2 separate regions of the Homo sapiens genome follow, and region 1 is linked to region 2. A link means that fine-mapping ties the variant in region 2 to the expression of a gene that starts in the linked region. Tissue or cell type: whole blood. Region 2 holds a variant in brackets; the other region holds the start of a gene. All regions are shown on one strand. Distances are from middle to middle.

Region 1 (8,087 bases), 80 kb before region 2:
CTGGCATCTGCTAACCCCGGAGGCCCATACTTCAGAACCGGTCAGCTGGGCCAAGGCCTCTCTAAGGCCCAGCGGCTCTCATGGGCAAATGTCAGGTGACACAGAGTCAGAGACCCTGGCCAAGGACTCCCCATCCGGAGAGGTCCCAGAGGGAGGGGCGAGGTGGCCTCTGGGGGGAGCTGGGCGGTGGGGCAGGACTTGACTCAGGACACCACCCTCTCCTGCAGACACTGGGCCAGGTGCCTGTGCCGAAGGACCCGGGGCATCGCAGGGGGGAAGGGGGAGGAGGGGCAGGCAGCGAGGGCTGCCCGGAGTGCTCGGAAGGCTCCCTGCCCCACCAGGTGGACTCTGGCAGGGCCCACGCTGCCCCAGAACCGCAGGGACTTGTAGCGGGGAGAGGCTTCCTGAAGGCAGTGGTCCAGCTGGGAACAGAACAGCCTGAGTGAGCTGGTGTGTGACTGTGAGTGTGCACACGAGGCGTGTGTGGCTGTGCCCAGGCTACATGTGTTTAGAAGTTTTGTGTGGACAGGTGTGTGTCTGTGGGACTTAGCCCTCCCCTCCCAGAGCCCCAGGGAGCTTCTCCTCCGCCACCCCTCTCCTTCCCATCAGCCCTGATCTCCATGGCACCCTGGGAGTGTGCAGAGTGAAGGGGTCTACAGTCAGACCCTGTCCTCGTCTCCTTTACCTTGTCTCGATTTTCCTCTGACAGATTCCTCAGCCCCCTCAGCGCCACAAACACCTCGTAGTGGGGAGCAGAGCCCGCAGAGGAATCTGTGAATAGACCCCATGTGCACACATACTTCCGGTGAATGGGCAGCTGCCAAGTCTAGTGTCCTCTGCCCTATCTGTTCTTCCCCACTCTGAGATTCATAGGGAAAAAAGAGTTTCTTGGTGGGGAGTGGGGTAAATGGAGAGGAACCTAGAGCTTGATCCTAAATAGGAGACAGATCAGGAAAGAAAATGGGTAGAGACTGCAGCAGGATGGATGAGAGTTAGATGCAGAGAAGGACTTTTGTAGGAGTAGTAAAGGAGGCTTATCTCTTTCCTAGCAGTCCCCTGGCAGGGGAGGTAGGAGTTGAAGGGTAGCTCAAGGATGGTAGGCAGGAGCCGGTGGGGAGGCTCACCCAGAATGCTGCTCTCCACACAGCCATGGTCCAGCAGCTTGGCCCCCGCCCACTGCCCCACTGCCCGGCCCAGGGCCTCAGAGAACAGGTCTTCACCAATATCTTCCCCTCGCACACTCAGGGTCTGGTCCAGCCTGAAGAGGAGGAAGGGAGAGGCAGTGGAGCCCAGGACACAAGGATGGCCCTTCAGCTCCCCGGGGTCACCTACCTGCAGATGAACCTGACGACTGGACACTGATTGTAGGCACCAACCACTCGCACCACATCACCCAGGCGGCACCTGATGGGGTGCAAGTGGGAGTGAGGTCGGGCCCAAGGTCTTCTGAGCTCATGCCCCAGGCCCCCAGCACGGTCCCATAGGGCCCCAGGTAGCAGGGGCTGTGCAGCTGATCACCTGGTGAGGCTGGCGCGGTCCGTCAGCACCAGCTCATACTCCTTGCCCTGCTGGGCCTCGGCCAAAAGGAGGGTGGAGGCAGCTTCCTCCTGGGTGCCTTCCTTGACTGGGAGCAGCTCGATAAAGGGGGCCCCAGGGGGCAGAAGGTAGAGCCCATGGGGCTGCTCTGGCTGTAGGTTTAGGCCCAGCACCCCTGTGAAAGCAAAGCAGCCTCCTCAGCGTCTGCTGGTGCCATCGCTTTCTGCCAGGCAATAGCCCCTCCTGGATCCCAGGCCTGATCCTCTGAGCACCTGATCCTCCTGCTGCCCTTCCACCACATCCTTCCTGGCTCCCCCAGCCTCAGCGGGCTGCCTCTTAGGCCCTCACTGGAAAGAGGCAGAGTGCTGTGGTCCTGGAGGGGGCAGACTTGGGAGTGAATCCTGGTGCCACATGAATTTGTGCAAGACTCTTTTTTTTTTTGAGACAGAGTCTCGCTCTGTCACCTAGGCTGGAGTGCAGTGGTGCGATCTCGGCTCAGTGATTCAGTGATTCCTGGGTTCAAGTGATTCTCCTGCCTGAGCCTCCTGAGTAGCTGAGATTACAGGCGCCTGCCACCACACCTGGCTAATTTTTGTATTTTTAGTAGAGACAGGGTTTCACCACATTGGCCAGGCTGGTCTTAAACTCCTAACTTCAGGTGATCCACCCACCTCAGCCTCTCCCAAAGTGCTGGGATTACACCCGTGAGCCACTGCCCCGGCCTTTTTTTTTTTTTTTTTTTTTTGAGACAGGGTCTTGCTCTGTCACCCAGGCTGGAGTGCAATGGCGCGATCTCAGCTCACTATAATTTCTGCCTCCAAGGTTTAAGCAATCCTCCCGCCTCAGCCTCCCAGGTAGCTGGGATTATAGGCGTGCACCACCATACTCCGCTAGTTTTTGTATTTTTAGTAGAGATGGGGTTTCGCCATGTTGGCCAGGCTGGTCTGGAACTCCTGACCTCAACGATCCATCCACCTTGGCCTCCCAAAGTGCTGGGATTACAGGCGTGAGCCACTGCACCCAGCTACAAGACTCTTAACCTAGAGAGCCTGAATTTCTTCACTTGTAAAAGGAGGCTGCTGGCCCTAGCATGCAGCTTGTTGGGGAGGATTAAATGAGATGATTATGTAGGGCCCAATGCATGGCTGCTTGTCATGTGACCACTGACCGTTGCCCCCACCTCACTGCCCTTGAGTCCCACTGACCTCCCGAGGCAGCATAAGCAGGAGAGAAGAAGGCTAGTCCTTGGCACCACAAGGCCCCGAGGGCAGCCACAGCCTCGGCCTGGCCTCCTGCATCCAGAGTCACCACCACCTGCAGCTTTGGCCAGAGCCGAAGGGCCAGTCCCCGTGGCCCCTGCTCTAGGGCCTCCCGGAGCTCAGCTGCCCGTTCACGGAGAGGCGCTCCAGGGTTCCCGGCAGCTATCGCCCCAGCTAGCTCTTCACCATCAGTCTCCAGGCCCAAGAAAACATCCAGAAGTTCGACAGCCGTCCCAGCCTCCAGTGCCCTCAGCCCTGGGGACCTCAGTGCGTCCAGCAGCAGGGCCCTAGGGTCCTTGGTTCCAGGGGTGCCCACCTGGCCCAGGGTATTCCCAGGCCAAGGCAGGGGTCGGGGCCAAGGGGATGTAAGCGTCACACGGGCAGTGCGTCCCTGAGCCAGCACTTCTGGGTAGGCCTTGTTTAGGGCTGCCAGACCCAGCAAGGTGGCCTGGAGGAGGAAAGAGAGAATGTTGGTCTGGTGTCAGAGCCAGACCCAGAGCCCCCATTTGGGGGTTCTTTGCCCACCATGACTGGAGGGTTTGGCTGCAAGTCAGAGGTCTCTGGTGGGACTGGGCTGTGGCCAGGACTGGGCTCTGGCCATCCTAGATTACCTGCAGAGAGGCCTCCCCAAGGTCCTGGTTTGAGGTCGGGGGCAGTGGCTGCTCTCCACTGTCTTCCTGCTGGGTCTGGCTGGCCTTGGTCAGAGGGAGATGATTCCGGAAGGTGCTTATGTCTATAGCCCCAATGACAACAGAAACGCCTCAGGAAGCCAGTTTCCCAAGAGTTTCAGGCAAGACTGGTGAGACCCTTGAGGGAGGAACCGAGAATAGGCCTGGGGTAGAGAGGATGTAAGGACCCAGCATGGGAAATTCATCTTGGACAAGAAAGCCAGTCCTGGGTCTCTGGGTCAGGCCACTCCGTTGGCAGTGGAGGAGGTAAGGGGGCCATCAGGCTCTGGAATCTGACGGTCCTGTGGGGTTTCTTTCTCTTTGGGTCACCTCCCCAGACCCTGGGAAACACACCTGTGCTCCTTCTGAGGGAACAGTGGGGGCGCTGGGCTCCCTGTAGACACCACCTCAGGGCCTGCTGCTGGCTCTGGTGCACATGGAGCGTGCTCTGCTCCAGCCTCCGCCGCTGCCAGGTGGCTGCCCAGACCAGGGCCCCCCATGCCACTCGGTGCTGGAGGCCAGCAAGCCAGGACAGCCTGGCATCCTGGGACCGCTGCTGCCTGAGCAGGGCCAATGTTGGCAGCAGCAGCAGCAGCAGCAGCAGTGGCCACAGCAGCATCTCCAAGCAGCTCCTGGGAAGAGGAAGGAACCGAGATATGGGGGCATGCAGCAATTATCCATTTCTCCTCCCACGCTCTACTGCATACAGGAAAACCGAGGAAAAATGAAATTGGGAAGAAGGCAGGACCCTGTGGGGCAGGTGATGCAAAGGAGAGACTATCAAAGCTTTGGAGTCCCACTGACCTGAGTGCAGATCCTGCCTCTGCCGCTTGTTAGCTGTAGGGCCCTGAGCAATTTAGTGGGCTGCACTGAGCTCTGTTTCCTGATCTGCAAAATGGGAATAAGAATAAGAATGCCTCTTTCAGAAGGTAGGGGTGGGCCGGGTGAGGTGGCTATCATCTGTAATCCCAGCACTTTGGGAGGCTGAGGCAGGAGAATCACTTGAGCCCAGGAGTTTGCAACCGGCCTGAGCAACATAGGGAGACTCCATCTCTACAAAAAATTGAAAAACTAGCCCAGCGTGGTGTCACACCCATAGTCGCAGCTACTTGGGAGGCTGAGATGGGAGGATCCCTTGAGCCCAGGATGTCAAGGCTACAGTGAGCCAAGATCGTGCCACTGCACCCCAGCTTGGGCAACAGAGTGAGACCCTGTCAAAAAAAAAAAGAAAAGAAAAAAAAGGGAGAAAAGAAGGAAGAGGAAGGGAAGGTACAGGAAGGGTTTCGGACAGGGTCGGTCGGGCACACAGCAGCTGCGTAACGATATCTCTTGCCCACTCCCGAGTGGCTTTGCTTTCTCTCGGGATCCACCCTGTCCCAGCTCCTTGTCCCTCCTGAGCCCCAGGCTGTGGGGTCCATGCCCACATGCACCTGTCACAGCCCACTTCTGCCTACTCCTGGCACGTGACGGAGACCCCTGGGTGACTCTGGGTCTCAGCACACATCCGGCCAGAAAGAAGGAGCGATGGCTTTAAAAGGCTGGGCCCCAACTGGGAAATCCGGCCACCAGGCCTGAGGGAGGAGCTGAAGGAGGGGGGTGCTCTTAAAGGGGCAGGTCGCCTACAGGACTTCATGTCGGGTGCTAGCCCAGGCTGGCAGTTGGGGCAGTTAGGACCAGACTAGCATGGTCCTCAAACTTGCGCAGGTGAAGGAACAGAAAGGTGTGTGTGGGAAAGAACGCCATTAAGCCACTTGAGCTGGGAGAGGGGCAAGCTTAAGAACTCTTAAAACCCCAACTCAGCTGGGCGCGGTGGCTCACGCCTGTATTCCCAACACTTTGGGAGGCTGAGGCGGGTGGATCATCTGAGGTCAGGAGTTTGACACCAGCCTGACCAACATGGTGAAACCCCATCTCTACTAAAAATACAAAATTAGCCAGATGTGGTGGCACATGCCTGTAATCCCAGCTACTTGGGAGGCTGAGGCAGAAGAATCACTTGAACTTGGGAGGCGGAGGTTGCAGTGAGCTGAGATTGCGCCATTGTACTCCAGCCTGGGCAATGAGCGAAACTCCGTCTCAAAAACAAACAAAACAAAAACAACAACAAAAAAAACCCCATCCTCTCCCTCAAGGTAGTTGAGAAAGAAAACAATTTTATTATTGAATAAGCATTCAACCACAATGTGATGTACATGACAGGTGATCTGCTAAGAGCTTGCAAAGAAGGGAGGAAATCTTACTTTTTTGTATAGCCAAGCGCATACAACCCATTACATACACGTTTTCAAGATAAACAATAACGAGTCCTCAAGTAAGAGGACTTGTCACATATAGTTTATCTTTTTTTTTTTTTTTTTTTTTTGAGACACAGTCTTGCTCTGTTGCCCAGGCTGGAGTGCAGTGGCACAATCTCAGCTCACTGCAACCTCCACTTCCCAGGTTCAAGCGATTCTGCTGCCCCAGCCTCCCAAGCAGCTGGGATTACAGGTGTGTGCCACCACGCCCAGCTAATTTTTGTATTTTCAGTAGAGATGGGGTTTCACCATGTTGGCCAGGCTGGTCTCAAACTCTTGACCTCAAGTGATCTACCCTCCTTGGCCTCCCAAAGTGCTGGGATTACAGGTGTGAGCCACCACACCCAGCCAGTCACATAGTTTATCTTAACTTTACATGGTTATTAGGTGAACATCTGTGTTAGCTTGCTGGCTTTATCCCAAGGAAAATTACAAACTTCTTTTTTTTTGTTTTTTTGGCAGAGTTCTATTCTTGTTGCCCAGGCTGGAGTGCAATGGCACGATCTTAGCTCACTGCAACCTCCGCCTCCCAGATTCAAGCAATTCTCCTGCCTCAGCCTCCCGAGTAGCTGGGATTACAGGCACGCATCACCACACCCAGCTAATTTTTTGTATTTTTAGTAGAGACGGGGTTTCACCATGTCACCATGTTGGCCAGGCTGGTCTCAAACTCCTGACCTCAAGTGATCCACCTGCCTCGGCCTCCCAAAGTGCTGGGATTACAGGCCTGAGCCACTGCACCCAGCCAGTCACATATAGTTTATCTTAACTTTACCTGGTTACTGGGTGACCATCTGTGTTAGCCTGTTGCCTTTATCCCAAGGAAAATTACAAACTTCTCTTTTTTTGTTTTTTGTTTTTGAGACAGGGTCTTGATCTATTGCCCAGGCTGGAGTGCAGTGGTGCGATCATAGCTCACTGCAACCTCAACCTCCTGGGCTCAAGAGATCCTCCTGTCTCAGCCTCCCAAGGGACTGGAACTACAGGTACGCACCACTACGCTCAACTAATTTTATTTTTTGTAGAGACGAGAGAGCTCCCTATGTTGCCCAGGCTGGTGTGTTCTTGACCTAGGCTCTCAAAACACTAAAACCACTCCCTTTCTCCCCTTACTTGCCTCTGGATACCTTTGAGAAGAGAGCTACTACTTGCTGAGCACCTCTCTTCCCTTCACAGCTGAGCTTCTTTCAACAGGTCTGTTCTCACTCTGGCTAACTCACCTCACTTTCACGTTTTTTCTCGCTGAGATCTTGCATTTGCTTTTATTATTTATTTAAAGACAGGGTCTTGCTCTGTTGTCCAGGCTGGAGTTCAGTGGCCTGGTCACAGCTCATTGCAACCTTGAACTCCGGGGATCAAGCAATCCTCCTACCCCAGCCTCTGAGTGGCTAGGACTACAGGCATGTGCCACCACACCCAGCTAATTAAAAACATTTTTTTTTTTTTTTTGTAGAGACAGGGGGTCTTACTATGTTGCCCAGACTGGTCTGGAACTCCCGGTCTCAGCGATCCTCCTACCTTGGCCTTCCAAAGTGCTGGAATTACAGGTGTAAGCCACTAGACCTGGCCCAGTAACAGCTTTATTAGATATAATTCACACACCATACAAATCACCCATTTAGTGTACAATTCAAGATCTAGTATATCCAGAGATATGTGCAACCAACACCACAGATAATAACATTTTCCTTACCTCAAAAACAAACCCTGCAGAGTCTCTCTGAGCCTACTGTGCCTCAGGAGACTGCCCAATTCGTTAAATAAAATAAAATAAAATAAAATAAAATAAAATAAAATAAAATAAAATAAAAAACCCCAAACTCAGGCTGGGCGTGGTGGCTCACACCTATAATCCCAGCACTTTGGGAGGCCAAGGCAGGTGGATCACCTGAAGTCAGGAGTTCAAGACCAGCCTGGCCAACATGGCAAAACACTGTCTCTACTAAAAATACAAAAATTAGCAGGGTCTGGTGGCCGGCGCCTATAATCCCAGCTACTTGGGAGGCTGAGGTGGGAGAATCGCTTGAAACTGGGAGGCAGTGGTTGTAGTGAGCCGAGATGGCGCCACTGCACTCCAGTCTGGGTGACAGAGCGAGACTCTGTCTCAAGAAAAACAAACAAAAAAAAAAACAAAACAAAAAAACCCCCAAACCCTGTATCCTTTCACTATTACCTCCAAACTCCTTCCCAGCCTCTAGGCAACCTCAAATTTACTTTCTGTCTCCATAGATTTGCCTATCCTAGACATTTCCTATAAATGGCATCATATAATATGCGGTCTTTTGTACTTGGCTTCTTTTCTTTTTCCTCGCTCTGTCACCCAGGCTGGA
Region 2 (8,102 bases):
TTTTAGTAGAGACAGGGTTTCACCATGTTGGCCAGGCTGGTCTCCAACTCCTGACCTCACGTGATCCGCTTGCCTCGGCCTCCCAAATTGTTAGGATTACAGGCGTGAGCCACTGGGCCCGACCTAGGCTCTGAATTTTAGACAACAAAAAATAGTTTCTCACAAACTTTTTAACTTACTCTCACCTAAAGGCTGGAAAACCCCAGTGAAGGCTTTTAAAACTCATCAGACATAGAAAAAAAGAAGCAGCTTTAATTGTAGGATCTCACTGACACAAACATAAGGAAATTCTGAGTTATAGATACCTCACATTAAGCTTTTTCCACTGACATTGTAACTTCTGTCAACATTCAAAGAAAATTCAACCCTGGTCAAAGGTGACAGTTGACAATCCTGGAAGCTAACATCCTCTGTTTATTTGAACAAGTTTATACTCTGCACAGGGAATTGAAGTTCTTCTTGTCTGTGACTTGATCTCCCAAAGTTAAAGCACTACGCTTTAGGGTTGTGAATTCTGTTTCCAAGACTTAACTTCACAATCCACTCCCAAGGAAAAGTGCTGAGAGAAAGTAAGCATCATAAATGAAAAAAAAAAAAAAATCTGAGACTATTTTCTAATGGCCTTTGCAGAGCTCTAGACATACAATAGTTCAGTTGCCTTAAAAATTCGCCCAAATAGGCTGGGCATGGTGGCTTATGCCTGTAATCCCAGCACTTCGGAAGGCCAAGGCAGGAGGATCACCTGAGGTCAGGAGTTCGAGACCAGCCTGGCCAACATGTCAAAACCCCGTCTCTACTAAAAATACAAAAATTAGCTGGGCATGGTGGCACATGCCTGTAGTCCTAGCTACTCCGGAGGCTGGGCAGGAGAATCTCTTGAACCCAGGAGACGGAGGTTGCAGTGAGCCAAGATCGCGCCACTGCATTCCAGCCTGGGTGACAGAGCGAGGCTCTGTCTCAAGAAATAATAATAATAAATTAGCCCAAATAAGTAAAATTCTTAAATCTGTCTCAGAAATCATGACTAATGCTCTAAAAAGCTTTAATGCAACAAGAATAGGACAGAAATCCCCGCAAAATAAAGTTGTAAATAAAATGAGTGGGATTGTTGAGTTCTCAGTACAGACGTGCATGTCAACACAAACCCACTACATTGGCACAAATGATCCCTTTGTTTGTAAACAGAGGCCAAGGAGACAGCTTATAGCTCTTCTTCTATGATGTACACGGTAATGCTAGGGGAAGAAGAATGAAAGACAACTTATAATAAAAATTAAGACTTTCTCTTCTTTAATATAATTTCCACCAGAAGTATATACTTTAATTGGAAAAATATTTATCACCATCTTCATCAACATTTAAAAAAATCCTAAACATATAAAAATATTTTCTATTCAAAAACCAACGAGACTCCATTTGGGAACACAAAGAAATACAAGCCTCAAAGAAACAAAATGTCTTATAACAAAGTGGCAGTGGCCAGCTCGCTTTTGCTGTACACTAGTTAGGGATGCAGTCTCTGGAATCAGCCCCGCCAAGAACAGTAATGTGACCTTGGACAAATTACTTAACTTCTCTGTGGCCATTTCTTCATCTTCCATCTGGGAATAATACCCACTCCTCTGAGAATCACGAGTTAACACAAGGCCAGAGCTGAAAACAATGTCTGCCCAGCACACTGTCAGTGAACGGTAAGCATTAGGTAATGTTTTTATTATCTTCACACTTGAAGGCGTTGGAACATTTTCTCAAACTCTGGGTTTTGAACATAATTTGAAGGACTTGTTAATTGTCTGCTCACCTCTCGAAAGGTGGCATCATAATGATTAGATACATAATCAGAATATCTTCCCAGGTGAGCCATGGTAAGCAGAGCTCTAGCCCAGAATGATGAATAGTTATTTTTAATACAAATCATGGATGTGGCTGTTACTGGCAACTTCGGCCTGATTTCCCATATGCAAAGAAATCCCCTACCAGGGGAAAACAAGCAATGTTAGAAACCCGTTGGGTTTGTCCTGTTATCATTACAGGGTAAAGCCAAATTCACATTTAGTAGCCTGATGGGCATTAAAAATATTAGTCACCAAATTAATCCCAACAAATAACAATAATTGATTGGCTCATTGATGTATTTCCCCTTGTCTTCCCCAACCTTTCTCTAACTAGTCAGAAAGGAAAGTTTTCATATTTTCTGAGAATCTCATTACTGCTCTCAAACCATGCTCTATATCTTAGTATAATTTAAAAAATGAGTCAGCACAAGCACCTCAGAAAACTAGCATAGAATATGAAGCTACTTCTCTTCATATTAGAAAAGTACAAAAATTTTTAAAAGGTTATTCAGGGTACCAAAGGTAATAGAAGGATACATGAAGAGTGAATGTTGCAGTAGATTTTGCAAGCTAGCTTCCAAAAGTAGGTAGAAAAAGATAAATGTTCTTCATCAATCAATCAATACAGGTATTCATCATCTCAGTGGTGTCATCCATGTGAAAATGGACATAGTTATTAAGAATAAACCTAAAGAAGAAACCATCTTGTATGTGACAAATTATAACTTCTCCTTTCTTGAATATTGGGGCAGCAGGGGAATAGGAAGTCAAGATACTCCAAGTATTAACTTCATTTGCAAATTGAATTGTACATAATTGTGCACCATGCTAATGCAATACTGCTTTTAGTAATGGGATCCAAATGAAAATTTAGAAGAGGTAAACTCCCCCTAAACTGCAAACACATCTGAATGTCAATTCAATTAGGAGTCTATTTAGTTATTACACTTCTTAGCATAAAGCGAGTTAAAGGCCAGGAAAAGAACACTTGCTTTAATCACTGAAACAATCTACACATATTTCTCAAGGCTCCACTTAACTCATCCTGCAACATTTATATTAAAAGTGACCTATCACTTAAGTGATCCAGGAGAGTAAAGGAAGAGTTTTAAGGCTGAAGGTGATTCCTCCTGAGCTCTAATACCATACCCTGAATTTCACCTTGTTCTTAACTCTTTTCCATGACACTGTGTATGGCTTTTAAGCGAGTCCAGAAAAACGGCTATCATTACTACTTAATATAAACCATGGGGTTCTGTATCATGTAAACCCAGAGCAACTCCTCTTTGAAGCACCGACATTCAAGGCTCTACATAACATGTTTCAACTCTATCTTAGTGCTATACATTTTCCAAGTACCTGCGAGGAAACAGATAGCAGCACCTCCATTTTTCTGTAAATTGTGCTTTTGTTGCTGTTCTAAGACTCCTTCCAAGGCTGTTAAACTTTGAAGAGAGTTGGGAAAAGACAAGAACATCTTGCCTTCCCGATTGGGTATTCAGGCTTCACTCAGTAAAGCTGTCATGAAGTAGCGCAAAGGGTCAGAGACAAACCACATGGCATCTGATGTTTGTCTGTATAAGTTTAAAATAAAAATGTGACACTACAAGAAGGTTAACATGTGGACCTAATTTTGAAAATACAAACAGGAAGCACCCCCACCCCAATATTACCATTTAAAAAAAAAGGAAACCAAACCTCAAAGATACCTTCCAAGGAAGTGATGGGTGTGACCCAAACTAACAAAAGTAATAAAACGTCACTTCAACTCTGAAACCATCAAAAGTGAGGGTCTCATTCAACCAACTAAAAATCTAACACCTGTAAATTGCTCTTCTCTTTTGATTAGTAAAAACAGCATAGATTTAGATGTGCAAAATCTTCTCCAAACTGACATAGGCTTTTCAGTAGCAGAGGATCATCATTAATAAAACACCCAATGTCAAGATTTTACTTCAAATAAGGCCACTATAATTAACAGTGAATACAATTTTAAAAAGTATTTATCACTCTGATGCTTAGAACTTAAATTTAAGTACAAAAACTGTCTGATCAATGGAAACTAGATTGTTAAGTTTGACTTTCTTATTCCCAGAAATAAGCATAAAACTGTTGTGTTTCCAACACTGCAGGAGAAAAAAAAAAACTTCTGATTTTAGAAGAGTTCTATTCACAAAGCTCAGAATTAAAAACATTTTCTTCCTTTAAATACCACACATTTGAGGACAGCGATAGTGCAGAGCTAACTTTGAAGCATTATTTTTATTAAGTTGCACAGTTAAAGTATTTTGATACTTTGATATTTTATAGTATCAAAATAAAAGGATATTCTTCTCAAGAGTCCAGTAACCTGGAATTGCCAGA[T/G]AGCTTTTTAAACGAATAAGTTTCAAATTATCAGAAAAATCATACAAACTAGGGTTATTTTGCTTCCTTTTGTAGGAATAATGCAGTAATCTGCACTCTTAACAGAAAGGGAAAAAATGTGTCACAGATAGAATGTCCAGAAATCTGTGAATAACTTTATGAGATACAGACATTTTTGTAGGGCACGAAAATAGTTAGGCTTCCTTCGATTCCACCTGTAACCTGCATCTAATCTTGAGCATGTTATTTACCTATCTATAACGTCTTCCTTTTACAATAAGACTACCTGTGTCACCTACCTACATAACAACAAGCCAAATAAACCACAACAAATGGATTCATAATATATAAGCCTAACAAAAATTACAGACAATTTGAATACTAACAATACTATGATTTGAAAAAACTCGACTTAAGTATCAAAAAGTAATAAATGGCAACTTTAGTCTTGATGTGGCTTTTACATATGTAAATGACATAAAAACAATCAAGAGAGGAAGAAAATGGAGATGAGATGAAAAGTCAGAGCAGGATAGGAAGTGTTGACCAAAATATTTATGTTGTAACACTCCAAACGATGATAGCACATTTTTCTCCTACAATCATACATACTATGAAGTACACACCTTAAATTTCTGAACACAATCCATATTAATATCCCGTGGGCAAAAAATACAAGCACCGAAAAGGTGAGAACTGATGAGAAGGTGGGATAGTTTACCTAGTTGGGTATATAGCAAAGATTATTTTGTGCAGAGTTTAGCTTCAAGTTATGCAATAACCAAACTACTGGTGATAGAAATCAACTTTTTTTTTCTGATGGTTTGCTTTACAAAAAAAAAAAAAAAAAAAAAAAAAACCTCTCCATTCCTTCCCTGTGTCTCAATCTGGAGCTTGAAATTTCATCTTCCAGAGGCTACAGTAGCAAACAAGTCATCTCCTAGATAACGCGCTTACCTGACCCAAGGTGTGGACTTGTTTGAATTAAACGTAACAGATACCACAAATTGTCACATAGGAAGTTTTTCTTAAAATCAGCAGCCCCTTCTCTTATTTAGCCATGTCCATTCTAACAACTGTGATCTTCCATGAGATGGAAACTGGTACCCAAATGAATAAACAAAACAACCCAAAGCCTTAAAATAAAATCAATCAATAAGATTCTCCCCATTTGAAGTGATCAGAACCACTCCAATATTTACAGTGTTACAAAATGAAATTTTAAAACATGAAAGGCACACTCAATAAAATACATCCTCACCTAGGAACTCACAGGCAATGAACATAACGCAATATAACATAAGCAAATGGACAACAATAGAATGTTGGGGAGAGAGGCACAGTTCTATTACCTTAATTGAAAGATAACAAAATTATTTGAAATAATGTAGACCCAACAGCTGAAAGCTTATTATGGCCCAGGCGGCTATCCAACAGCTTTGGAAACCTAAGATCCAAGCAGACCATAAACACCACTTGAAGACTGAAAAAAATGACATAAGCCCAAGTATGATATTCAGTGTCACGCTGGCCCTTTCAAAGGGCATTCCCTGAGGACACTGCAGAGAAAATGTATGGAATTGTATCTAGGCAAAGATCTGTATACTGCACGATGCTTTGGGAAGAGCACGAATCTCAGAGTCCTTGAAGTTTCAATCCCTGGATACTCAACAAACAGCCGTGTCACCTGAGCAGGCCACTTACTCCACCTATCTGGGCCTCAGTTTCCTCATTTGTACAATAAAAGAATGGCATCATCGCTGGGTTCCTTTCCAGCTCTAACATTCTTTGACCCACTTTTGGCACTATTTATTTGATACGAGGTATGGCGGGATCACAGGGACCAAGAAGAAAAGAACTGACTCTGGCTCTTTGGCAAAGAGAGAATCGGTATCTCTTTTAGTCTTTAAAATTCTTGTGCTTTTCATTAATCCCGTCTTTCTAAAAGCTGACACTTGGTTTTCTTCTTTGGCTTTTCCATCACTGCTGGCTACAAGTGTTTGCAACCGCCTCTTGCTCCGTGTGAGTTCTTTCCTCTTTGTTCACCCCGACCATCTTGCCAGATTCCTTTAGCCTCAGACCAGCTTTTGTGATACAACTCCCCTTCCGACTCTCCATATCTACCCCCCGACACCAGGAGCACTTTTAACCCTTTATCCCTGACTAGAAAGAAAAAGCACACTGCATCCCACGGCCACACGCACGAGCCCAGGCCTGGCGGGTCCTGATGTGGGATCCCGCCCCCCAGAGTCTTATCGAAACGTTCGTATTTGTTGTCTTGATTCCTTATAAGGCCCTGTTTCTTGAAGCTTTGCTAATACCCCCCACCGCACCAGGCACCCCCGCAGGCTCATCCCATCCCCGGAGTCCCGGGAACCTCTTTTGAAAGAAAGAAGTTAAAGCAAGGAAGACGGCTGGGGATATTCGGAATTGCAACGTGAAGGTGTGAGGCGGCTGACAGCAGCCCCCTGAGCTCCTATGGGGTCGGCGCGGGGTCCCCACACACCCACTCAGCACACGCGCACGCAGCCTTTAAAGCGCACGCCCCCCGCGGCGCCGCGGCGTTCGCAAGTCCCCCTCGCGCACCCCGCATTGCCCTCAGCCTCCCCGGCAGCCAACCCGGACCCCCTCTCCCCGCGCGCGCCCCTCGCCCAGCGCGCAACCACCGCGGCCCGGGAGTGATGGCGGCGGCGCGGCCCTGACGGGCGGCTGAGCGGCTGGAGCGCGGGCCCCGCCCGGGCTGGCTCCCCGGCCTGGCTCCCCCGGCCCCGGGCCCAGGGCTCGCCCCGCAGCTCCTACCTCGCTCGGCCCCTCGGGCGCCCGCGGCTGCTCCGGCCCAGCTGTCTGGCTTGCCCGCCCGCCCGCTCGCTCCCTCCCTCGGCCGGGCCGCCGCGCGGAGTTGCCTGCGCTGGGTCCCCGCCCGGGGTGACGGCTCCGGCCGCCGACTCTCCTCCCGCCGGGGCCCGCGGGGGCGCGCGCGCCGCTCACGCGCGGAGGCCCAGGGACGCGCGCCGCTGGCAACCCGGAGCGCGCCCCGCTTCCTGGTTCCGCCCGGCGCGCGCTCGCTAGCCCGCTGTCCCTCGCGCCCCCTCCGCGACCGCCCTTGAAGGACCCGGACCCCCTCGGCACACCCGAGGTGGCGGCGCGCTCGGCGGTGCCGGTGCCGGCGCCGCGCGCACCCCCTTTCTGCGGCGGTGGGGTGTCTTCCCGGCTCGGCTCCCTAGCCGACGCCGCACCGCAAGCACATGCTGCTTTGTTTGGGTTGGGTCGACCACCACTAGCAGGGCTAGGGCGCACTGTCGTGGTCGTTTTGGTTGGCCCCCTCCGCGGCCCGCCCACCTCTCTCCCTGGGAGCCCAGGCCCGCGTTCCGGGTCCTCTCCCGCCGAGGCCGAGGTCAGAAGTCCACAGGGGCCCCGATCAATAATTATCCTGGGTTTGCCCCCGGGAGGGCGTCTCAGCCAGGGCTCCTGCCGCCTGCATGGGCACGGCAGGAATTCACATTCGCCCAGGCCGAATTCACCTGTCCGAGTTCCAGGGTGAACCTACGGGGGACGGGGCGCCTGGGGCCGGTTCCCTTCCTGGGAAAATCTGGCTGGCTCCCACCAGTCAGAGCTGCGGGAGGGACTGCTCTCTCTAGAGAAGAAAGAATAAACAGGGTCATCTGTAGGATCCAGGGGAAGGGGGTCCCCCAGATCCTTTCCACGTGCTGAGGAGGGGGTTGCGGTTGTGGGAAGCCAGGCTGAGTCACCCACTCTCCTTTCCTCTGCTACGTCTATCTCCCGGAGCTGGCCAGCGGTTTCCCTGGCAACCCTCCAAGGGCTAGCACTAAAGCAAGACATAGGAAAGCTCCAGAAGCCAAGCTGCAGGGGCCAAAAGAGAGAGAAGGACCCCTCCCGCCCCCA

Evidence for each region. PIP is the estimated chance that this variant, and not a neighbour inherited with it, causes the effect.
Region 1: GHDC starts here. The variant in region 2 is fine-mapped to the expression of GHDC in whole blood (INTERVAL, PIP 0.97).

The regions. Positions count from the first base shown.
Region 1 is chr17:42,189,500-42,197,586 of GRCh38, forward strand. GHDC (GH3 domain containing) reads right to left here and starts at 4,995. Exons shown (of 10, transcript NM_032484.5): 1 at 4,894-4,995; 2 at 4,268-4,351; 3 at 3,818-4,095; 4 at 3,407-3,528; 5 at 2,742-3,243; 6 at 1,519-1,711; 7 at 1,333-1,404; 8 at 1,125-1,258; 9 at 686-771; 10 at 1-422. The coding sequence starts at 4,082. The coding sequence ends at 204. RefSeq lists enhancers at 3,483-4,013, 4,908-5,137.
Region 2 is chr17:42,269,250-42,277,351 of GRCh38, forward strand. It overlaps STAT5B (signal transducer and activator of transcription 5B), which reads right to left and starts at 7,142. Exons shown (of 19, transcript NM_012448.4): 1 at 6,999-7,142. RefSeq lists a silencer at 6,775-7,384. The variant T/G (reference allele first, on the strand shown) is at 4,200.